7 linked regions of the Homo sapiens genome follow. The protein of the gene in region 3 purifies or fractionates together with the protein of the main gene of each other region. This does not show direct contact. Each region holds a gene or a part of one and is shown on either strand. Other genes may lie near its edges. The genes, in order: P4HA1, SCO1, PPEF1, NTPCR, AKAP8, CTPS1 and ACSL3.

Region 1 (3,500 bases), on a different chromosome or scaffold from region 3:
AGCCCAGGAGTTCCAGACCAGCCTGGGCGACATAGAAAGACTTCATCTCTACACAAAATAAAATAACATTAGCTGGGTGTGATGGTGCCTGCCTGTAATCCTAGCTACTTGGGAGGCCGAGGCAGGAGGATTGCTTGAGCTGGGGAGGTTGAGTCTTCAATGAACTGTGATTGTGCTACTGTACTCCAGCCTGGTGACCGAAATGAGTCTCTGTCTCAAAAAAGAGTATACTTGGCCAGGCGCAGTGGCTCACACCTGTAATCCCAACACTCTGGGGGGCCGAGGCAGGAGGACTGCTTGAGCCCAGAAGTTCAAGACCAGCCTGCGCAACATGGTAAAACCCTGTCTCTACAAAAAAATTAAAAAGCCAGGTGTGGTGTTGTGTGCCTGCAGTCCCCGCTACTTGGGAGACTGAGGTGGGAGACTCACCCAAAGCCTGGAGATTAAGGCTGCGGTGAGCCAAGATCACGCTACTGCACTCTAGCCGGGGCATCGGCAGTATCCTTATGACTTTTTGTAATCCCTTCTTTTGCTCCTTACTACCCTCTCTGTATCCCTAGGAAACCATTGTTTCCTTTCTGTTGCTTAAGATTAGTTTTTATTTTCTAGAATTTTATAAAAATGGAATTGTATATACGCTTTTTTTTTTTTTTTTTAGCACGGGGAATCTCCTTACACTCAGCATAATTTGAGATTCATCCATGTTGTTATGTGTTCATAGTTTTTTATTGTTGAATAGTATTTTATTTTATGAATATACCATGATTTTTTTTAACCCATTTACCCTTTGATGGACATTTGGATTGTTTTCACTTTTTGACTATTATGAATAAAGCTGCTATGAGCATTCATGTACAAGTTGTTGGAGAGAGATATGCTTTCTTTTCTCTTATATTAATGCCTAGGAGTGCAATAGCTAGATGTGATAGGGAAATATTTTTTCCCAGTTGTTGGCTTGTCTTCATTCTTTAAACAGTGTGCTTCAAAGAGCAGTTTCTATTCACAGACAACATGTCTGTGACTCTTCAAAAAAGCTCTAGTGAATAGGTTAATTCAGCAGAGTTGTAGCTTAGAAGGTCAATATACAACAGTAAATTGTATTTCTATATACTAATAATGAACAATTAGAAACTAAAGTGAAAAATTCCCATCTCATTAGCACTAAAAACCATGAAATACTTAAGTATTAACTTTTCAAATGGTGTGTAATATTTGTATGTTGAAAATTATGAAACACTGATTATATCATGTTCATGGATTAGAAGACTCAGTATTAAGATACCTACTCTTCTCAAACTGATTTATAGATTCAGCACATTTCTAGTCCAAATCTCAGAGGATTTCTTATAGAAATTAATGAGCCGATTCTAAAATTAATATGGAAAACCAAAGGAACTAGAAAAGCTAAAACAATTTTGAAAAAGAATAACAAAGTTGGAAGATTCATACTACCTGATTTCAACTTAGTTTAAAGCTGCAATAACCAAGACTGTGGTATTGGAGAAAAGATAGACATACAGATCAATTGAACAAAATAGAGAATTTAGTCACACAAAAATTGTCAATTCATTTTGAAAAAGTTTAAGGGCAGTTCAACAGAGGATAGTCTGGAACAGTTGAATATTCATATGCAAAGAAAAAACAATCTTTGTTTTATTTGGGCACCAAGTATCCACTGTTGGACACTGGGCAGTCCCTTGCCCAGGAATTTATGTGAATATTGGGACAAGTGACATGAATCCACCAGTGGATATGAAATAAAGTTTAATCACACAGTAAACAGCAAAAGGACTCCTCAAGGTCAAGGACTTAGGTTTAGTCCAGGATGAAGCAAGAGTGAAACAGGGTGGGTGGCTTTGGTTTTTATTGACCAGAAGGTGGAACTTGTTTGATGGTCCCCATGTGTGGTATTTACATGGTTTCAACTTCACACCAGTACCAAGGGAGGGAATACTGGTCCCCAAGTGTGGTATTTATATGGTTTCAACTTTACACCAATACCAAGGGAGGGAGTACCTGGGCTTTCTTACAGACTTACCCAGATGTGGGACAAAAGGGAGAGAGGTGTGGGACCTGAAGGCAATCTGCACTCAAACATCAAAATGAAATCTTTTTATTAGAGCCTCAATCTGTACTTGACACTGTATGCAAAAATTAGTTCAAAATGGTTCGTAGGCCGGGTCTGGTCGCACACGTTTGTAATCCCAGCATTTTGGGAGGTTGAGGCAGGAGGATTGCTTGAGCCCAGGAGTTTGAGACTAGCCTTGGCAAGAGTGAGACCCGTTTCTATTTTAAAAAATGTTCATAGATTGTGAAGTAAAATGTACAGCTATAAAATATTTGAAAGAAAACATAGGACAAAAATATTTTTGACCATGGGTCAGGCAGAGATTTCTTGGACATGATGCCAAGAACATGATTCATAAATGAACAAACTGATAAATTAGACTTCATCAAAATTAAGAAATTCTGCTCTTCCAAACACACTGTTGAGAGAATAAAAAGACTTCACAGACTGGGAGAAAATATTCCCCATCACATATCTGACAAAAAATAGACTGTATAAGGAACTCAAAGCTGGGCATGGTGGCTCACGTCTGTAATCCCAGCACTTTGGGAGGCCAAGACTGGAGGATTGCTTGAAAATCCAGGAGTTTGAGACCAGCTTGGGCAACATAGCAAGACCCCATCTCTATTAAAAAAAGTAAACAACCTAATTAAAAAGAGCAAAAGATTTGAGTAGACACTATGCAGGAAGGTGTATGAACAGCAGATAAACACCCCAAAAGGTGTTAAACATAGGCCAGGCATGGTGGGTCATGCCTGTAATCCCAGCACTTTGGGAAGCTGAGGTGGGTGGACCATCTGAGGTCAGGAGTTCAAGACTAGCCCGGCCAACATAGCGAAACCGTCTCTACTAAAAATACAAAATTGGTCAGGTGTGGTGGCACGTGCCTGTAATCCCAGCTACCTAGGAGGCTGAGACACGAGAATCACTTGAACCCAGGAGGTGGAGGTTGCAGTGAGACAAGATTGTGCCACTGCATTCCAGCCTGGGCGACAGAGTGAGACTCTGTCTCAAAAAAAAAAAAAAAAAATAAAGGCATTAAACATCATTAGTAATTATGGAATTGCAAATTAAACCCATAATGAGATAGTACTATATGTCTATTGTGAAAATTAAGATATTAAGAGAAACTAAGGAAAAAACGGCAATACAAAATGCTGGTAAGAATGGGAGCAATGGAAACTTTCATCCTTTGCTGTTGGAAGGGCAAATAGTGTAGCTACTTTGGAGAAACGTTTGGCAGTTTTTTATGAAGGTAAATATATACTTGTCATATGACCCAACATTCCCGCTCCTAGGTATTTACCCAAGTGAAATGAGAACTTAGGTTGATTTCCTCTTTTTTTTTTTTTTTTTTTTTTTTTTGAGATGCACTCTCACTCTTTTACCCAGGCTGGAGTGCAGTGACACAATCTCGGCTCACTGCAACCTC
Region 2 (3,500 bases), on a different chromosome or scaffold from region 3:
AAGAATGTCTCCCCCTATTGGATGATTTAGCAAATGTACAGCATGAATTCCTCATCGAATCTCATCAAAAGTCAAATTCTTATGGCAGTAGGCCAGTATTTCTCAAAATGGGGCCAAAGATACATTCTACAAGGTCCAAGAAGTTTCCATAAGACTTACATATTTTTGTTTTCATTTGTAATTAAAAACATTAATATCCATATTCTGGATTATCTGTGTTGTGAGTATAAATTTCAGTGCCCAGGCTTGTGTTTGCTCCATGATCTCACTGGCACCTAGCTGCCCACTGCTGTTACAGGCAGACATGAATATGATACATTCTTGCCAAATCAACACTAACCAGGCAAGGCAGGCTACACGATTAAAGGTTTCAAAGTATTTTAAATAGAAAATGCAGAGGGGCAGTTGAGTAGAGTTGGGTATGTGATAGCAGTCTGACCAAAACCCCCTCCCTTCTTGCCCTGAGCAGCACTTTGGTTTCAGCAAAATCTCTTGTCAATGTAACTGAATGTTTTCAATTTAAGTTTTGCAGGCTGTTTGGGTTTATTTGTACAACTGCTTTCTGATTTGACTTTCTGACTCTGAGTTATGAGTTCTAAGCATCAAGACTATGGAGTGTTACCTAGTTTAGGACTGTATACATTTAAACAATTTAATATAACTCATTTAATGCTGGAAATCAGACTGATGAGCTCATCTATTCCTGCTGTCATCATCGGATAAACTCAAAACCAGTTAATACAACTCTCTATAAAGACAGAAGTCCGGAAAGTCCTTTTCCTATGGTTTCCTCTTTTGGCCACTGTGGCTCTCTGCTCTTCTCTCATTCTGCTAGAGAAGCAGCAAGAGGAAAACAGAGGAGGGTCCCTCTACTTTCCTTACAATTAAGGCTTAAAGAAAAGTGCTCATTTTTCTCATCTTTTACTCCAAGGAATCCAAGTTTCCCTAATTCTACGAGGCACCACATCTGGAAGACAGGATTACTGTGTAGGCTTAATTAAGGCAAACAGGCCAGAACCTTGCTTTTAATTCAGGCTGTAGGCTCCAGGGGCACACACGTTCCAGGTTCAAAGGGACAAAGAAATCATAGTTGGCTGTTGAGACAAAGCACTGCAGTGAGACATCCCATCCCCTCTGCATCTCAACTCTTGGGATGGGCCATGGGGAGCTGCTGGATCAGTGACTCAGGGTCTTGGCCATCTTTCTTTCTACAAAGACAGCTTCACAGCTAGAAAGGCTCTTAGGATTACTCTGCCCAAACAATATTATAGAAAAAACAGAGTATGACAACTAAGAAAAATACTGAAATAATGCTAAAATACAACGCCGACTCTTCATATGATAGGAGAAAAATGTCCAAATTGAGAGGAAAATTGGTGGATAGTGGTGGTGCTAATGCCTTTTGGTGCTTCACTGTGAAACCACTGACAAGAAAAGAAACACAGTAACTTGGGCATGACCTTAAGGCTTCTGGGGCAGTGCTGATGAATATGAAGATAGTTAATTTAAGAGCTACACAAGTACAACAGAATTTCTGTTCCTTATCATTAAAAAGCACATATTTAACGCCTAACTGTCCAAGGCATATAGTCAATGGGCAAATAAACCTTTCATCTTTTGCTTTTCAGAATTCTCATTCAACCTAAAAATGCAGTTCTCCATGGCCTAAAACTGGTTCTCCAGAAGAGCAATTTCTGATACCTCTACTGGGGACACAGTGAGAACCAACACAATCTTTTTAAAATAAGTGTTGTTCCAAATGATGGCTTCTCTTTATTTCCAACATGGCACCCAAGTATCTGGTTTTAAACTGCCCTAAAATCCTATATGCCACTATAAGAGAAAAACAGGCAATTGAATTATGAGAACAGTGAATATAAATCAAACAATCATCTTTTAAAAAACTGCTTCTGGCTGGGCGCAGTGGCTCAGGCCTGTAATCCCAGCACTTTGGGAGGCTGAGGTGGGCAGGGCAGACCACCTGAGGTCAGGAATTCGAGACCCCCTGGCCTCGCCTGGCCAACATGGCAAAACTCCTTCTCTACTAAAAATACAAAAACTAGCCAGGCGTGGGAGCACATGCCTGTAATCCCAGCTACGCGAGAGGCTGAGGGAGGAGAATTGCTTGAATCCGGGAGGCGGAGGTCGAAGTGAGCCAAGATCGCACCACTGCACTCCAGCCTGGCTGACGGAGTGAGACTCCGTCTCGAAAATAAATAAAAAGTAAAAAACATGCTTCTATTATCCTTTCAAATATTCAAAATTCCTAAGGAGGCTGGATGCGGTGGCTCACGTCTGTAATCCCAGTACTTTGGGAGGCTGAGGCGGGTAAGGTCAGGAGTTCGAGACCAGCCTGGCCAACGTGGTGAAACCCCGTCTCTACCAAAAAATATAAAAAAGTAGCCAGGTGTGGTGGCGCGCACCTGTAATCCCAGCTACTCGGGAGGCTGACATAGGAGAATTGCTTGAATCTGGGAGGCGGAGGTTGCAGTGAGCGAAGATTGTGCCACTGCACTCCAGCCTGGATGACAGAATGAGACTCCATCTCAAAAAAAAAAAAAAAAAAATTCCTAAGGACTTTGCAATAATCTTAGGTATTCTCTCTTCTCAGAAGCTAGTCAGTCATTGAAAGCCTTATGACTATTTGGGATCTGGGAGCTGGTCCATGGGTTAAAACTGGAACATTTACTCACTATGTAGTCTTCATCTTCGTCCTTGGGGCCAGGGCTGTAATACACTCTGTATGCTCTGGCCACTTGATCGACCTCTTCTCTCGTGCCAGTCAAGCCAACCAGTTTGGGAGAAAATTCTAAATAAAAAATGAGAGAGACAGTGAAAAATGAGAAGCCAGTAAAACAACCATCTCTACTTCAAAAAATGTATCAGTTGTAAAGCAGCTCTACTGCCACTTTCTTCCTGTGAGTCTCCAAACATTTCTTCACGATTCAAAGGAAAAGGAGAAGAAATTCACAAAGAACAAATGAAAATTCTCCTTTGTAATATATAAGTCAAATCTTTTTATGACTATCTAGTAAAGACCTGGAGGGAATATTTTCTAATCACTTGTATCACATTTTAAATTGATTTTTAAGGAGTAGTCACATGTAGTTCTCAGATATACTAAAGCTTAAAATTATTATCATAAATTAAATACTATAACTTTTCATGGCATCATATGGGGAAAAAAATTTGCTTCATAACTAAGTTCATATCAGGTCAAAATACCTGTGTCTTATTTTCCTGCAAATAATTTCAACACTGGTATCAAGTTCTACTCTTTACTTCTGATTTAAAAAAACTGGTTAATTAATACTAGTCATCCCCAAAACGCAATCTTAACAAAGTTCTGAAATAAGGGCAAATCATTCACAGCGTGTATCTGCTATTAAGTTTTTGGAATTCATGTAAGTGAACCGGTAGAGGTCACTTAAAACAACTGGATTCATCAAACTACTGAAATGACAGCCCAACATTTAACAGCAGTTCCTTTTTCTAAAGGT
Region 3 (3,500 bases):
AGAGTTTTTCTCACCGCTTTAAGCTGTTATAGAAGTTTCAATAAAGAAACATTACAGGCCGGGTGCAGTGGCTCACACCTGTAATCCCAACACCTTGGGAGGCCGAGGTGGGTCGATCACCTGAGGTCAGGGGTTCGAGATCAGCCTGGCCAACACGGTAAAACCCTGTCTCTACCAAAAATACCAAAAATTAGCCAGGTGTTGTGGCGGGCCCTTGTAATCCCAGCTACTCAGGAGGCTGAGGCAGGAGAACCACTTGAACCCAGGAGGCGGAGTTTGCAGTGAGCCGAGATCATGCCACTGTACTCCAGCCTGGGTGACAGAGCGAGACTCCATCACAAAAAAAAAAAAAAGAAAAGAAAAGAAACATTACAGATAGATGAGAGCCACAAAGACGGAGCCTCCAATCTTTATGAAAAATATTATTTTGTTTTATTTTGAGATGGTGTCTTGCTCTGTTGCCGAGGCCACAGTGCAGTGGCATGAACATGGCTCACTGCAGCCTCAACCTCCTGGGCTCAGGGATCTTCTCACTTCAGCCTCCCAAGTAGCTGGGAACACATTCCGGCACCACCACACCTGGCTAGTTTTTATTTTTTAAGTTTTTGTAGAGATGGGGTTTTGCCATGTTTACCCAGGCTGCTCTTGAATTCCTGGACCCAAGCATTCCTCCTGACTCAGCCTCCCAAAGTGCTGGGATTACAGGCATAAGCCACTGTGCCTGGCAGAAAAATGATTTTAAAAATTTGGATCTTTAGTCCTGGACATCATGTAACCTGCATTTGCCTCTCCTGCGCCCCAAAGGAAATGTTATAATAATACAACACTTGTGGATTTAGAACACATTATGGAAACCAGTCATTTACTAAATGTATTGCGGAAACTGAGAATGTACTTACCATCGAGGGGGGAAAAGTGAAGGAGATGCTTTAGGAGACACCCTCAGATAAACAGGTTTCCACATTTGTGTTGGGAAACAGCAAGGGCTTCCTCAGGCTATGTGCTCAACAGGACAAAAACCTGGCCCAGAGCCACAGCAGGAGACCTACTTTATGTCTTTGAACATATTAAGACACACCTAATGTGTGGGCATTGTGGGGAGCTAATTTCTTCCCTGAATGTGACAATGAAGTTCTTTTAAGAGAAAAGAACCTTGTAGATTCAACAATTGTCAAACAATTGTGATGGAATTTTTAAAGCCAAAAAAACAAAAAAAAAATGGCAAGGCCTGATTCTTGGTTATTGTTATTGCTGTATTGGTTATTCATGGAGGAGATGAATATGAAACAATATTCTTTTTTCTTTTTCTTTTTTGCGGAGACCAGCTCAGTAGGGGAGACCCTAACCCAGCAGCGCTAGAGGAATTAAAGACACACACAGAAATATAGAGGTGTGAAGTGGGAAATCAGGGGTCTCACAACCTTCAGAGCTGAGAGCCCCAAACACAGATTTACCCACGTATTTATTAACAGCAAGCCAGTCATTAGCATTGTTTCTATAGATATTAAATTAACTAAAAGTATCCCTTATGGGAAACGAAGGGATGGGCCAAATTAAAGGAATAGGTTGGGCTTGTTAACTGCAGCAGGAGCATGTCCCTAAGGCACAGATCGCTCATGCTGTTGTTTGTGGCTTAAGAATGCCTTTCAGCGGTTTTCCGCCCTGGGCAGGCCAGGTGTTCCTTGCCTTCATTCCCGTAAACCCACAACCTTCCAGCGTGGGCGTTATGGCCATCATGAACATGTCACAGTGCTGCAGAGATTTTGTTTATGGCTAGTTTTGGGGCCAGTTTATGGCCAGATTTTAGGGGGGCCTGCTCCCAACAATTTTGAGACAGGGTCTCTGTCTGTCACCCAGGCTGGAGTGCAGTGGAGTGATCATGGCTCACTGCAGCCTCAACCTCTCAGGCTCAAGTGATCCTCCCATCTCAGCCTCCCTAGTAGCTGAGACTATAGGCATGCACCACCATGCCTGGCTAATTTTTGTATTTTTTGCAGAGTTGAGGTCTCACCATGTTGCCCAGGCTGGGCTTGAACTCCTGGCCTCAAGCACTCCTCCCACCTCAGCCACCCAAAGTGCTGGGATCACAGGCATGAGCCACCACGCCAGGCCTGAAACAATTTTCAAGGAAGAATGAGAAGTGGTCTTTGGGATACCTTGGGTTAATATTTCTGACAAATAAGTTGGAATCTAGAAAGATATACTCTCACTTGTAAGTTACAGCGAAATCTGGTTTGTTGTTCCAAGATTATTGATATTCTGTGGAGTGATCCCAGAGGCAAAAATGGCTGTTTTCCAAATACGTGCCGAGGAGGGGGCTGCTATTTTGGACCAGATGTTACTTCCAAGATTCTTAATAAATACCAGTTGAAGATGCTCATCAGGTCTCATGAATGTAAGCCCGAAGGGTATGAAATCTGTCATGATGGGAAGGTAAGCTAAAATTGTTGGTGACATTCCCATAAACATCCTTCCCCTAAGCACAGTCTTTTCTTCACAGAGCATGTCTGGCCTAGAAGCCCATGAGAAGATGTCTTCTCTAGTACCAAACAGAAACCAGAGAAGGCGAGCTTCATCTAGGTTGTTTGAAGGGGCCTCACTGTCCCTTATCCTAAAAGATATTTGGTTTATTTCCCTGATCTTCCCTAATCCCAGAAACAGAAATTCTTTTTTTTTTTTTGAGATGGAGTCTCACTCTGCCACCCAGGTTGGAGTGCAGTGGTGTGATCTCAGCTCACTGCAACCTCCGCCTCCCGGGTTCAAGTGATTCTCGTGCCTCAGCCACCCAAGTAGCTGGGATTACAGGTGTGCGCCACCACACCCAGCTAATTTTTGTATTTTTAGTAGAGACAGGGTTTCACCATGTTAGCCAGACTGGTCTCAAACTCCTGACCTCAGGTGATCCGCCTGCCTCGGCTTCCCAAAGTGCTGGGATTACAGTCGTGAGCCACCGCGCCTGGCCCCAGAAACAGAAATTCTGATACATGGCACTAAGTAGACACACAGAAAGGCTTGGTTCTTATAAGGCAACTGTCCCATACAGTGGGGTTGAGAATGTCCTTTTCCTCACAGAGCGCATAAAAGGCAGCAGTGAATCCAGTTTGCTCTTGCACTTTTTACATGTTCCCTGTGCAGGGCCCAAAACACAAAACACACTTCCCTTCAGCTCCCTGAGTAGGTGACCTCCAGCAAGTTGCTCACTGTAGTCAGTTTAGCTGCAGCCACTAAAACGGAGTGTGTTGTGTTCCTTCAGTGGTGTCTGATCAAAGGCTAAAAGAGGTGAGGACCGAGGAGCTGGTTTCTTGTCCCAAGTTGTTCTGGGATGCACCGTTTCTTTTTTTTTTCTTTTTTCTTTTTTTTGAGACAGAGTCTCGCTGTGTTGTCCAGGCTGGAGTGCAGTGGTGCAATCTCGGCTTACTGCAACCTCCGCCTCCCGAGTTCAAGTGATTCTCTTGCCTCATGCTCCCGAGAAGCTGGGATTACAGGCGCCCGCCACTACG
Region 4 (2,772 bases), on a different chromosome or scaffold from region 3:
TGTCTGCAGGAGAGCAAGCCAGGAGGACATGGGCCTGGACGACACGGCCTCGCAGCAAAGTGTGTCAGACGAGCAGTGACGGGCGTGCGGCCGGGCGGGGAGGCTGGCTCCCCCACACCTCCCACCTGCATTGCTCTCCCTCGTGCTCCCCAAATCACCACAACCAACCAATACCGCGATCCATGAGGGACTCCTCCTGTGGAAAAGGAGAGCTGTTCCAGAACACAGAACTGATCTCAGGTTTTTGAAAAAAAAAAAAAAAAAAAAAAAAAAATCAAACAACAACAACAAAAAAACCTCACATGATGGGGAAACAAAAAAAAGCAACAAAGAAGCCACACCACACCTCCCTGGCCAGGCACAGCGCTGCCCAGAGCGGCACACCGCGGACAGCACCACACATGTTCCAGAATCTGAAATCTCAAAAGCCATTCACTAACTTAAAACAACTCAACAGAGCCATGAAACAAATGCCCTGATGAAAATAAGACAACTGCATGTTACATCATCGGCACTTTATACATTACTGTTACCATGAAAAAGAAATGAACAGCAGCACGTCTGATACCATCAGCTGGGCAGATGCATTAAGGTTAAATCTAAGTGTCAAGAAAACCCTATTTCTTTATAATATTTATGCAGCTGTTAAGCGTAACATGGTGGCAGCTTCACAACAAGAACCGTGATCATGCATGCAGTCATGTCTCCAGTATTCTGTGAAAAGCCAGGATACGTTAGGATGTGAGTTTAGAAACTGAGTCCATTCGGTGCATGGAAATCCACCGCGGAGTCACACAATGCTCCTCACTGTAGTCCAGGCGATTGGTGGGCCGCCAGCACCCTGCGGGCTTCACAGGGACGCGTGCTTGTTCTCCAAGCCCCGCAACCCTTACTGTGCACACAACATCGCACACACCTTTGTTTTTGAAATTAAAATGTTTATAGTTATTGCTGCGTCCAGTGTTTTGAGTTATACTGAAGCTTCTCATTTCTACAAGTATATCTTTTATGGTGAGAACGACATTTGGGTAAATTCTGAGACAACTTTTCCCATCTTCAAGACCCCAGGAACCTGTATCCTTGCTGGGGTAGAGGTCCCAAAATGCAGTCCATAGAGTATCACTGGCCTGGTGAACCATCCCTTTTCAAAAGACAATAGTTAGAAGGAAATACTCAATTTTAAACAGTCACACAAATTTCTTCAAAGTATTTAGGATTTGGAAATTTGAGGAGAGGGTTGGGGGAAGGGTATTGTAGAGAATCTCTTGCCCCTTGGAAAGTAAATGGTAATGCTTTTCTAATTTTTTTTTTTGTAAACTAAGAATCAGCAATTAATAAAAGCAAGTGTACTCTATAATCACAGACAGAAGGTTCTTATTTTCAGGTCAGCACTCCCTAGAGGTGCAAACTTTATTTAATTTAAATGCAGTTGTTTGTCTAATGGGAAGCTGATAGGGCCTTGCTGCAGTTCTCTAAGGTGGCCAAATTAAACTTGGCTGGCAGCTCCTGTAATCCTCTTGGGCAACTTTACAGCCAAGCCCCAAGGGCTAAATGGCAGGCCTGGAGCTGTGAGTGTGGCCTCCCCACGGAGGGTGACTCCTTGAGTTCAGTGAGGAAAACCACGGTGCCTGGCAGTGGTCAGCCAGGAGTATGACTGGCCACTCCTTAGGCATCCAGAAGTAGGAAACACAGAAAGCATTCCACAAAACGGGGAATCTCCCCAAAGAGCTAGAAACCCAGGCTGGAAGGAAATGGCAGCGCAGGCAAGAGAGCAAGAGCACCCTGGGTGCTCCTCCATCCCGTTTCTCTGGGGAGGTTCATGAGGTGCTTCTTCAACAGTTATTCTGTTCATTGCTTATCACAGTTCACGAGTTCTCGTGGCATCTTTTGTGGGGAGGAGGGAGGATGAAAGTGACACAGTGTATCTACAACACTAAGGTCACATTAATCAGATAGGAATGCAGTGACGCTCTGCACCGTCTATGAGAGCGGGCATCTCGAGTGTGCATACCGAGGCACAGATGTGCACACACATCCGCAGGCAACTGCACCCACAGAGAAAAGGTGGCAGTATTGGAGTCACCCCAGGATTCTTGGGGGCTGTTTGACCAGCCATCAACAGTGCAGCCATACTTCTTTTTCTTTTTTATCGTGGTACACAACTTTTATATTTACAACTCATGAACTTGTTAATCTGGTCCTTCATCTAGTCAGCTATGTATCAGAAAGGACTTCCTGCAAAATGTTATATTCTAAGCCCCCATTTAGAGGAGGCATCCCTAAACTGACATTTCTTGCTAGAGTTGTTCAAATATTCTGCCAGTATATAGCTAAAGAGTTATTTTCCAGTTCAAGAGTTATTTGGGGGCTGGGCACGGTGGCTCACGCCTGTAATCCCAGCACTTTTGTAGGCTGAGGCAGGCAAATCATGAGGTCAGGAGTTCGAGACCAGCTTGGCCAACATGGTGAAACCCCGTCTCTACTAAAAATACAAAAAATTAGCTGGGCGTGGTGGCGGGTGCCTGTAATCCCAGCTACTCAGGAGGTTGAGGCAGGAGAATCGCTTGAACCCAGGAGGCGGAGGTTACAGTGAGCCGAGATAGCACCACTGCACTCCAGCTCAAGCGACAGAGTGAGACTCTGTCTCAAAAAAAAAAAAAAAAAAAAGAGTTATTTGGACACAGATCAAAATGGTTTCTCCTCTAAAGATAATATTAAAACCATAGCACTTGGTTTTATATAAATCATGTGGCCAATTTGGCATTATTGATT
Region 5 (3,500 bases), on a different chromosome or scaffold from region 3:
TCTCTTTATTAGATTATTTAAGTTTAAAAATAATTAAAAAGAAAATGTCATCTCAGTTTCCATGTGACATGAAAAGTCATCTACTCTATCCATTTATCTGTTTAAAATAACAAGGGTTTCAATGTTCCTGTACCACTTAAGAAGAAACAGTTCTGCGTTTGGTTCCTGGCTTCGTTTTGCTAAGCATTTCTCTCTTTTTTTTTTGAATCCTTGATTTAAGGTTCACATGGAACAGTGATTTTCTTTTTTTTTTTTTGTTCCTGAGATGGAGTCTTGCTCCGTCGCCCACGCTGGAGTGCAGTAGCACAATCTCGGCTCACTGAGATGGAGTTTTTATTTGAGATAGAGTTTCGCTCTTGTTGCCCAGGCTGGAATGCAGTGGTGTGATCTTGGCTCACTGCAACCTCCACCTCCTGGGTTCAAGCAATTCTCCTGCCTCAGCCTCCCGAGCAGCGGGGAATACAGGCATGCGCCACCATGCCGGACGAATTTTGTATTTTTAGTAGAGACTGGGTTTCTCCATGTTGGTCAGGCTGGTCTCGAACTCCCAACCTCAGGTGATCCGCCTGCCTTGGCCTCCCAAAGTGGTGGGATTACAGGCGTGAGCCACTGCCCCCAGCCCGTTTCTTTTTCTTTTTGAGACAGAGTCTTGCTCTGTCGCCCAGGCTGGAGTGCAGTGGTGCAACCTTGGCTCACTACAAAGTCCACCTCCCCAGTTTAAGTGATTCTCCTGCCTCAGCCTCCCGAGTAGCTGAGATTACAGGCACCTGCCACCATGCCTGGCTAATTTTTGTAATTTTAGTAGAGATGGGTTTCACCATATTGACCAGGCTGGTCTTGAACTCCCGGCCTCAAGCGATCCGCCAGCTCAGCCTTCCAAAGTGCTGGAATTACATGTGTGAGCCACGGCATCTGGCCCCTTTTACTAAGCATTTCTTTGAACACGACAATCACTGCCCAGACTGGGCGCAGTGGCTCACGCTTGTAATACCAGCACTTTGGGAGGCCAAGGCGGGCAGATCACAAGATCAGGAGTTTAAGACCAGCCTTGCCAACACGGTGAATCCCGACCTCTACTAAAAATACAAAAATTAGCCAGGCGTGGTGTCAGGCGCCTGTAATCCCAGCTACTCGGGAGGCTGAGGCAGGAGAACCGCTTGAACCTAGGAGGCAGAGGTTATAGTGAGCCGAGATTATGCTATTGCACTCCAGCCTGGGCGACAGAGCAAGACTCCATCTCAGAAACAAACAAACAAAAAGAAAATCACTGTCCCATGTGAACCTTAAGGTCAAGGATTCCCCAGCATCACATGATCACTGGTGATTTCAGTTTCTAGTCAGAAGCCACTTAACTCCTGGCAGGGAGAGGCAGGCACATGGTGTGCTCACAATGACATCCTTTGGGCTCAACATTTTTGCAATCCTTTTCTATTGTGGGACAAAATCTTGATGGTAGGATCATCTCTCTACCTGTCTCCTAGCTGTGTCAAACTCCAGGGGTGGTCTGGATTTGGATAAGGTGAACACAGGACAGTGTCTGAGATGCCAGACACCAGGCTAGGGGGCAGGGATGCCCCTCAGGCCTGCAGGAGAGTAACAGAGCCCGCTGCTGAGCAGTTATGGACCACACAGACCCACCAGCAAGGCTGGGATTCCAGAGGAATAGAGACACAGGAGTCAAACACCAATCCTCTAAAGCAAGAACAGAAACCTAACCACCAAAGCAACGTCCCAGCCATCCTAGAAGACAGGTAGCTCGTGTGCTGGGAGCACGAGTGATGGTCTTTTCTGCACTCCCAATTGTTTACTGTTTTGCCTCCCACTGGTTTGGCCAGAGGAGTCAGGCCACCAGGCCCCCAGCATTGTGGAGCGAGGACAGGTGAGCTCGGCAGCGCCTCCACCGCACGAGTCCACCTCCTCCTGTGGGGTCGTGTGCCCGCGCCTCACCTGTCGGCTGCACGGTCCCGCGTCCTGTCTCTTCTCCTTTGCTTTTCCCTTCTCTTCTTCACATCCTCGTCCTCGTCCTCCTTCTCTCCTGTAACAGACAAGTCCCTTCGAGACGCTCTGAGTGGCCTGCAAAGGAGCTGAGCTCCAGGGCCTGGTCGGGGGGCTGCAGCTTGGCCACCGCACCCTGTGCCCTGCCACTGCCTGCACCACGCGGCAGGGTCCAGGATGCCCCAAGGCACTGTCAGAGACTCCTGGTGGACACGGGCCTGGAGTGAGAGCCCGGAGTAGTCACCAAACTCCCCACATGGCCTGAGGCGGCCAGGATGGGCTAGGGACACAGCCTGCCCACCCCATGTGCACCACAGCCCCCTGCTCCCTCTGTCCTCCCCATTCTGCTTGTCCAATCTCATGCCCTGCGATGGGGTCTTCTCCCAATATCACAGGAGAAGCCAATTCTCCCCGGATGAAGAGGCGGCAGCTGAAGGCCTCAGGAAGTGAAGCAGCTGCTCCGCCGCCCTCTATCCCACCTCTAGGTGGACTGTGACGAGCGTCCTGGCGGCCCCGTCTGAACTAGGGCCTCAGCAGGTCTGACAGTCCTTGCTGGCCCGACCTCTATCTTCCACTCACAAAAACCGTCAATCTAGGGCTTTCCCAGGGCTGCGTGGGAAGCAATCCTAGAAAAAAATTTGGGAAGAGACCAATTGGTCCTCCCGTCCGTCCCCCGGGGCCAGCAGAGGAGCTCCTCGGAGAGCCACGCGGCCATCATCCCAGCATGAGGCCAGGGACGGACGCTGAAAAAAGGTTGGAGAAGCATCTGAACTGTAACCCCTACCCCTGATGCCAGTCCCGAGACTGTCCCACGAAGATGGCGACCGGCGTGCGCTGCTCAGAAGCCTCTCAAAAGGGCGTGTGGGATTTTTGGCAAGAGGTCACTGCCTGAAACTATGACTGCTGTTTAATAGCAAAGTCATCCCGGGTAGGTAGCAGGACCTGCGCGCAACAGACATGTCACCTTTGCTTTAGCATTGTGCCGCTAAGCGCTCGGGGCGCCCCGTGCTATGGACAGGACTGCTGCGGGTCGCGGGGGGGAGGACCGCAGAGGGCTGGCAAAGCCTGAACAGGAGGAACATCTAAGCCAAGGGCCTTCAGAATGGATGGGAGCAGGGCCACTGAGGAGCCAGCCTATGATCCTTGGGGTAACCAGCTACGGAAAGACCCACAGGACAGGTAAAGAAACGAGTGGCTTCAGGGTGAGCTCCAGGCCGCGGCACCTCAGGCCGCTCTGCCATGAGGGATTTAAGCCTGCTCTGCTGTTGCTGCAGACCCTCTGGTCTCCTGCATTGGACATGAAGAGACCTGCTGAAGGGCGCCCGCCTCTCAAAGACCCAGTGGGCCTGGGTGCTCCCGACCCCGCAGGTGTCTGCTGTCACACACTCGCAGGCACGAAGCAATGTGCAGTGCAGCTGCCAGTATCCCCACCACAGAGGCCCACAGCACAGCCCAGGGCAGGCGACTGAAGGAACTGGACAAAAGGAAGCCCCAGAGAAAACACT
Region 6 (3,500 bases), on a different chromosome or scaffold from region 3:
GCCTATAATCCCAGCTATTCGGGAGGCTGAGGCAGGAGAATCACTTGAACCCAGCAGGTGGAGGTTCCACTGAGCTGAGATTGCTCCACTTCACTCCAGCCTGGATGAAAAAGTGAAAACTCCATCTCAAAAAAAAAGCAAAAAATCTGAAACTTAAACTTAAATGTGGAAATACTTGTTACATTTTTAATAGTGAATATTTTTAAGGCCGGGCGCCCTCACACCTGTAATCCCAGCACTTTGGGAGGCTGAGGCAGGTGGATCACCTGAGGTCAGGACTTTGAGACCAGCCTGGCCAACATAATGAAACCCCATCTCTACTAAAAATACAAAAATTAGCCAGGAGTGGTGGTGCACACCTGTAATCCAAGCTACTCGGGAAGCTGAGGTAGGAGAATCGCTTGAACCTGGGAGGTGGAGGTCACAGTGAGCCAAAAAGATCGCGCCACTGCACTCCAGCCTGGGCGACACAGCGAGACTCTGTCTCAATTAAAAAAAAAAAAAAAAAAAAAATTGAACAATTTTAATGACAACCTATTCTGCTACAGAATTGAATTTCCTTCACTTGCTAGGCCAGAAATATCTAAAACCTGGCCAAAGCTACATGCTCAATGTATCACCACTAGAATTTCCATACTAAGCACCACACTTAGATACATTACAGGTTCCAAATTTTGGATTTCCTGCATCATAGGTACAGTAACAAAAACACTAAGATCTCTGTGACAGCCTACAACACCCTAGACACCAGGCACCAGAAACAGAAAGTTGAATGAGGTGGCCCTTGCCCTCCAGAAGCTTAGAGTCTGTGAAGGGAGATACACACCACACATGTACACACACACACACACCAGAAAGATGGGCCCATCAGCAGCATACATGCGACACCACACAGGAGCCCAGTGAAGGACGCAGTTAACCCTGAAGGCCAAGGGCCAGGAGGTTTGGCAGTTAAAGCTTCTCAGACAACACTATGTCTTCGCTAGAACCTGAAGGATGAGAGTGAGTAGGAGACTGCCAAGCCAACAGGAAGAGGGGGACATGGGTTCTTAACAGAAATTAGCCAGTGAAAAAGTACAATCATAGGGAGAGTGGAGGGTACTAGGGGAACCGAAAGATACTCCACCCGGCTGAAGCACAAAGTACAACGAGGCACGGAGAAGAGGCAGGAGGGACACAGGTGTTGTTTGGGGAACCAGGAGAGGCAGGGAATGGCCGATGGCAATGGGTTCTTCTGGAACAGCCCACTATCTCTAATTAGAAAATAACAAGCCTCACGAAACTGATCAAGAGGCTTTAGGACAATTAGAAGCAAAAAACAACTTATTAGAGATGGGAATTTCTACTCACTTGTTCAGGCTCAACATGGCAGAACATTGATATTTTCTCCTTCACTGATGTGTCAAGTGGATTTGAGCACCTGCATACAACCTAGCAGTAGAGAACAAGATGGCTTAGACAGAAGGAAAAAATGACAGAAGTAGGGGTTTCTCCTGACTGAAATTAAAACAGACATCACATTGTTAAGATGAACGAAAACGTTAACTCTCAGCACCAGGCACATAATCCATAAAAATATTATGACTCGTTTCAAAGCTAAAATCCGTAAACGCCAAACTGGAGAAACATAAGAGAATGGCAGTACAAATGAATACATTAATGAACTACAAGAGCTCTGGGATTTTCCTCCATTAGTGTTCCCAAGTAGGAGTAAAAATGAGAGTAAAAAGACTGAGAGGAAAAATAAGGTCTGGGGAGTACAAGACCTAACACGCTCTAAGTATGAACATCTTGCAAACTACAGCCCGGTTCAAAGAACTAATCCTATTTTCTCCATCATCAATTATCAAAAGCAACCCAACAAGACAAAGGTCTTGTCTGTCATGATAGAGTGATCTTAACTAGACATAAAAGATTACACTGCAACCAGCTATCAGGAAATCTTACCAGATCTGGGGAAAGCCCAAGTCCTCTAAGTTCCCGAACACTATTCTGGGTAGGTTTAGTCTTCTGTTCCCCTGTTGAACTTGGCTATTTCACAAAAGAAAAAAAAAAAAAAGTTAGTTTCCCTCTGATAAGGAATTTTCAAGTATGACTTTTCCTTGAACCTCTTTTAATAAGGAAATAGATCATTTGGTCACTTGTGTAATTTAGCTTTTATGTTTGTCAAAGTTACACATGCATGCATTTTAGAATCAAATGGTTCTAACCGAGCTTGTAAGCAGTATCGGCCCTCACCCACTCTCCCCTTTCCAATCCCTAGAAACAACCGCTCTTCAACTCTTAACTGATCTTGCTGGTGTGCTACTTCTCCACATTTACTTGGAGGCATTTTCTATTGATTTCCCTGTTAAATGAGGATCCTGCCCCCATTAGACACTTTCCTGTGCCTGCAGTCCTCTTTTGGGTTTACATACTTTTTAAGTATTTAAATACTGTTCCCAAACCATGTGCCACACTTTTCCTTTCTGTACTAAATCATCTTTATTCTTCTCTCACACTTAACAGATACACGTTACACATGGACTTGTAGGATGGAAATCATTTTCTGTTGGACTTTTTCTTTTTTTTTAAATCGAGACAGGCTCTTGTCACATTGCCCAGGCTGGTCTCAAACTCATAGGCTCAAGCAGTCCTCCCACCTCTGCCTCCCAAACTGCTGAGATAACAGGTGTGAGCCACCATGCTCAGCCTCCACTAGAATTTTTAATGAAATAGCATCAATGTCTTTTAGCTTCCAGTATTGTTGCTAAGGGGTCCAGTGGCACAATGATTCTTGATTTTTCTCTTCAGAGCCTTTTAGAACTTCTGCCCCATTAGTCTGAACCTTCACAATAATATGCCTTGGTGTAGGTCATCTGTCATCCAATATGATAGGCACCAAGGGGGCCCTTTCAACCCAGAAACTGATGTCTAGAAATTTCCTTGAATTGTTCAGATAAGGGGTCAGAAAATTTTTTCTGTAAAGGCCCTGATAGTAAGTATTTTAGGTTTTGTGGGCCACACAGTCTCTGCCACAAGTATTCAACTCTACTGTTCTAGAGCAAAAGCAGCCACAGACAGCACATAAACAAGCAGACACAGCTGTATTTCCATAAACTTGATTTCCAAATACGGGGGGGTAGGTTCATGTGGCCCATAGGCCATCATTTGCTGACCCCTGGGGTTCAGATTATACCTCCATTTCTGTGTTCTTATTTTTTGGAACTCCTATTATTTGGACATTAGAACTTCTGAGCCAGTCCTCTAATTTTACCTTTTCTCTCCTATTTTCTATCTCTTGGTCTTTTTGCTGTACTTCCTTGGGTATTTCCTCAACTTACTTTCTCTTAACTTTTTCATTTCTGCTATCTAATTTTTAATTTCCAAGGATTCTTTTCTGTTCTCTCAATGTTTCTTTCTTATAGCATCCAGTTCTTACCTAACGGATATAGCTTATCTCCTTCTAATTTTCTAAGAATAGTAATGACAGGTCATTTTTGGTTTTTTGGTGTTTTTTT
Region 7 (3,500 bases), on a different chromosome or scaffold from region 3:
AACTTTCCGGAAAACAAAGCTAAAGAAAAAAATTAGAGAACCACAGGATTTTAAAACTGAATGGGATTTTCCAAATCACTTAAACTAATCCCCCAGTTTTGATATGAGAGATTTTGAGATTAAGTTACTTATCCAAGGTCACACAGCCAATTTGGAGAGTCTCTTGAGCCCCAAATGTTAATTTTTTGAAGTTCAACAAGGTAAAGAATTTATTATTTCCTCTTAAGAGCTTTTCAAGTGATATTCGAATTTGAATTGTCAGGTTTAGTTTTGTATAGTGACAGGAAAACCCTTGCTTATGGCCACTTTTATATCATTATTTACATAAAATATTTATCATATATTAATACTGAACAATTCTATCATCTTTATGAAATGTATTAAAATCAAATTAATTTTTGCTTTAATGTACTTTATTAGAAATGTGTATAATTTGTATACCACAATCTGTTTTTGAAGTTTCACTAATTCAAGCTTTGAATTGTTTGTTAAAAATAATCTAGTAAATTATCTGTGAAGCATTTAAAAAAGGAAACAAGTTAAACATCTAATTGATGTTTCTGAAAATACACTAATACAAAGATTGCATACTGCCTTGATCAAAAAGGAGAGGTAGTACTTAAAAAAAAAAATCTTTGCAAAAGGTGAAGACTACACGGTGACAATTTTTTAAAAATGGTATTAACAGACTTTTCAAATCAGCTTTTACAGTTATCCCTTGGCATCCAGTCCTCTGGATACCAAAACCCTCAGATGCCTAAGTCCCTTATATAAAACGGCATAGTATTTGCATAAAGCCTACACACATCCTCCAAAATACTTTAAATTATCTCTAGATTACTTATAATACCTAATACAATATAAATTCATTGTAAATAGTTGTTATACTGTATTTTCTTTTCCACTGTTATATTTTATTGTTTTTTCCCCAGAATACTTTTGATCCACGGTTGGTTGAATCTAAAGATGTGGAACCTGTTGATACAGAGGGCCGACTTTACAACTCACTGAAGAAATAACTAACGTAAGGCAGGAAAAAAACTTACAAAGTTCTAAATTATGTGAAGCATCTGAAAACTATATTAATATTACCATAAAAAATACTTTGAATGTCATACTTCCATTTTCTAACTTCTAAGCTATTTTATGATCAAATCATAAATCTATGTACTCTATTAACACTACACAAATACAAGCTGGAACAAAACTGATCATTTAAAGCTTTAAATACAAAACATTTAATTATATTCATACTGAAATAAATATAAAAGCAAAAGAGAAACTATTTCTCAAAATAATTAAAACTCCCTAAGTGTTCACAGAAAATATAAACTCACAAATAGCAAAATCTTAAGTGAAAACACACTTTTAATGACATTGCAGGTTTTTTAAACTGCTCATACTATTACAAAGGTTTTTTGTTTGCTTGTCTTTTAAAGAGACAGAGTCTCACTTTCACCCAGGGTGGTGTGCAGTGGTGCAGTCATTGCTCCCAGGCCCAAATAATCCTCCCACTGGGGGCCCAAACAATCCTCCTACTTCAGTCCCTGAAGTAGCTGGGATTACAGATATATGACACCATGCCCAGCTAAGCAGAGAAGGAATCTTGCTATGTTGCCCAGGCTGGTCTTGATTTCCTGGCCTCAAGCAATCCTCCCATGTCAAGATGGATTTTTTTTTTTTTTTTTTTTTTGAGACAAGAGTCTCGCACTCTGTCACCCAGGCTGGAGTGCAGTGGCACGATCTCGGCTCACTGCAACCTCTGCCTCCCGAGGGAGTTCAAGCAATTCTCCTGCTTCAGCCTCCCTAACAGCTGAGACTACAGGCACATGCCACCACTCTGGCTAATTTTTGTAATTTTAGTAGAGATGTGGTTTTGTCACGTTGGCCAGGCTGGTCTTGAATTCCTGACCTCAGGTGATCTGCCCGCCTTGGCCTCCCAAAGCACTGGGATTACAGGAGTGAGCCACCGTGTTCAGCCAGGATGGATTTTTTTTTTTTTTTTGAGACGGATTCTCGCTCTGTCGCCCAGGCAGACAGATCGTGCAGTGGCGCAATCTTGGCTCACTGCAAGCTCCGCCTCCTGGGTTCGCACCATTCTCCTGCCTCAGCCTCCTGAGTAGCTGGGATTACAGGCGCCCGCCACCAAGCCCCGCTAATTTCTTTTTGTGTTTTTAGTAGAGACGGGGTTTCACTGTGTTAGCCAGGATGGTCTCGATCTCCTGACCTCATGATCCACCTGCCTCGGCCTCCCAAAGTGCTGGGATTACAGGCATGAGCCACCGCGCCTGGCCTGGGATGGATTTTTTTTAAAGAGTTCTCTTGACTTTATGAAATATATTTCTTTCTTATAACTATCTCAATTAATTGGGCTATTAATGTGAACTAAATGATTAAATTATCAAGAGGAGAAAGAAGGAGGTAGAGAGTCTTTACTTACCTGTCGCACAGTGGAGTATTACGTCCTTTTGAAATCTGTTCCATTTTGTAATTATAGGCCAGAATAAACAGATTACGTTGAAAACTACTCATTTCACTGACTTTATTCATGACATTTTTGTAGATCCGATCCATGATTTCCTAAATGTATAAAAATGAGTTTAACATAGTTAATAATAACAGCTGCCTTACATATTCACTTAGCATTAGATTAACATTTCTAGCAATATTAAGGCATTTTAAAAGAAGTACTCTTCAACTGTGGATGTGATTCAGCAAGAAGGAAAAAACCTTTTGTGAATTTTTCAAAAAGATGTATCCTATCAAGATCAAACTTTTAAAATCGAACCACAATTAGTTTAAAAATAAAGTTTCCACAAAAATAATTTTTAAAAGCAGAAATATATCTAGATACTCATATAAATTGTAAGATATTCTTTATATTGCTTTGCTTATCTTACTAATTCTGAACTAAAACCTACTCACAAAATAAACGAACAACCGTCTGAAATGGTTTTTCAAAATGTCCTAACTTTATCTTATAAAAATATACAGTACCACATTCTTTGCTCACAAAAAGACCATGCAACGTTTGGGAGTTTTTGTTTGGCTATTTGACTTTCGATATTGCACCAGGAAGTTTTCCTTGTCTGTGCTGCATTTTGCTTGCTAGGTCCATTACTGTGAAGTATACTTTAATGACTTAAAATAATGTTTCCTCCACAACTTTAAATTGTACGTCATTTTTAAGTGAACTAAGAATTTAAGTTGGATACTAAAGAAACTATAATTATAGAAAGAAACTACTGATTATTTATATTTGACTTTGAAGTAACTATGTAATTATTCTTGACGTAAGCATTTAGGTACCCGACAATAATTCCCATCATTTCCAAACAAACTCAGCCTATGTTATAAGGAGCCAGAAAATCACTGCTGCCCCATTTCCCTTGTCTTATTCCCAGGCCCCTATATTATGTAAGGATGAACAGCCCCTCTTAAGTCATTCAAAGCTGCACCAGCTTCTCTGTCACTTTGTTTGGTGTTTAGGCCAGACTTTC

Evidence for each region.
Region 1: the proteins of PPEF1 (region 3) and P4HA1 purify together in Homo sapiens (affinity purification with mass spectrometry; one large-scale study listed by BioGRID and IntAct). This does not show direct contact.
Region 2: the proteins of PPEF1 (region 3) and SCO1 purify together in Homo sapiens (affinity purification with mass spectrometry; one large-scale study listed by BioGRID and IntAct). This does not show direct contact.
Region 4: the proteins of PPEF1 (region 3) and NTPCR purify together in Homo sapiens (affinity purification with mass spectrometry; one large-scale study listed by BioGRID and IntAct). This does not show direct contact.
Region 5: the proteins of PPEF1 (region 3) and AKAP8 purify together in Homo sapiens (affinity purification with mass spectrometry; one large-scale study listed by BioGRID and IntAct). This does not show direct contact.
Region 6: the proteins of PPEF1 (region 3) and CTPS1 purify together in Homo sapiens (affinity purification with mass spectrometry; one large-scale study listed by BioGRID and IntAct). This does not show direct contact.
Region 7: the proteins of PPEF1 (region 3) and ACSL3 purify together in Homo sapiens (affinity purification with mass spectrometry; one large-scale study listed by BioGRID and IntAct). This does not show direct contact.

Annotation. Positions count from the first base shown.
Region 1 is NC_000010.11:73,086,867-73,090,366, reverse strand, and holds part of P4HA1 (prolyl 4-hydroxylase subunit alpha-1 isoform 2 precursor), read left to right. Parts: intron 1-3,500. UniProt on the Homo sapiens protein: Catalyzes the post-translational formation of 4-hydroxyproline in -Xaa-Pro-Gly- sequences in collagens and other proteins.
Region 2 is NC_000017.11:10,684,034-10,687,533, forward strand, and holds part of SCO1 (protein SCO1 homolog, mitochondrial), read right to left. Parts: intron 2,810-3,500; coding exon 2,694-2,809; intron 1-2,693. UniProt on the Homo sapiens protein: Copper metallochaperone essential for the maturation of cytochrome c oxidase subunit II (MT-CO2/COX2). Not required for the synthesis of MT-CO2/COX2 but plays a crucial role in stabilizing MT-CO2/COX2 during its subsequent maturation.
Region 3 is NC_000023.11:18,801,645-18,805,144, forward strand, and holds part of PPEF1 (serine/threonine-protein phosphatase with EF-hands 1), read left to right. Parts: intron 1-2,247; coding exon 2,248-2,433; intron 2,434-3,500. UniProt on the Homo sapiens protein: May have a role in the recovery or adaptation response of photoreceptors. May have a role in development.
Region 4 is NC_000001.11:232,981,611-232,984,382, reverse strand, and holds the end of NTPCR (cancer-related nucleoside-triphosphatase), read right to left. Parts: 3' UTR 501-2,772; downstream 1-500. Other genes in the region: PCNX2 (pecanex-like protein 2), read left to right, coding at 1-79. UniProt on the Homo sapiens protein: Has nucleotide phosphatase activity towards ATP, GTP, CTP, TTP and UTP. Hydrolyzes nucleoside diphosphates with lower efficiency.
Region 5 is NC_000019.10:15,366,288-15,369,787, forward strand, and holds part of AKAP8 (A-kinase anchor protein 8), read right to left. Parts: intron 2,036-3,500; coding exon 1,948-2,035; intron 1-1,947. UniProt on the Homo sapiens protein: Anchoring protein that mediates the subcellular compartmentation of cAMP-dependent protein kinase (PKA type II).
Region 6 is NC_000001.11:40,989,696-40,993,195, reverse strand, and holds part of CTPS1 (CTP synthase 1), read right to left. Parts: intron 2,032-3,500; coding exon 1,948-2,031; intron 1,432-1,947; coding exon 1,351-1,431; intron 1-1,350. UniProt on the Homo sapiens protein: This enzyme is involved in the de novo synthesis of CTP, a precursor of DNA, RNA and phospholipids. Catalyzes the ATP-dependent amination of UTP to CTP with either L-glutamine or ammonia as a source of nitrogen.
Region 7 is NC_000002.12:222,923,536-222,927,035, reverse strand, and holds part of ACSL3 (fatty acid CoA ligase Acsl3), read right to left. Parts: intron 2,581-3,500; coding exon 2,441-2,580; intron 20-2,440; coding exon 1-19. UniProt on the Homo sapiens protein: Acyl-CoA synthetases (ACSL) activates long-chain fatty acids for both synthesis of cellular lipids, and degradation via beta-oxidation.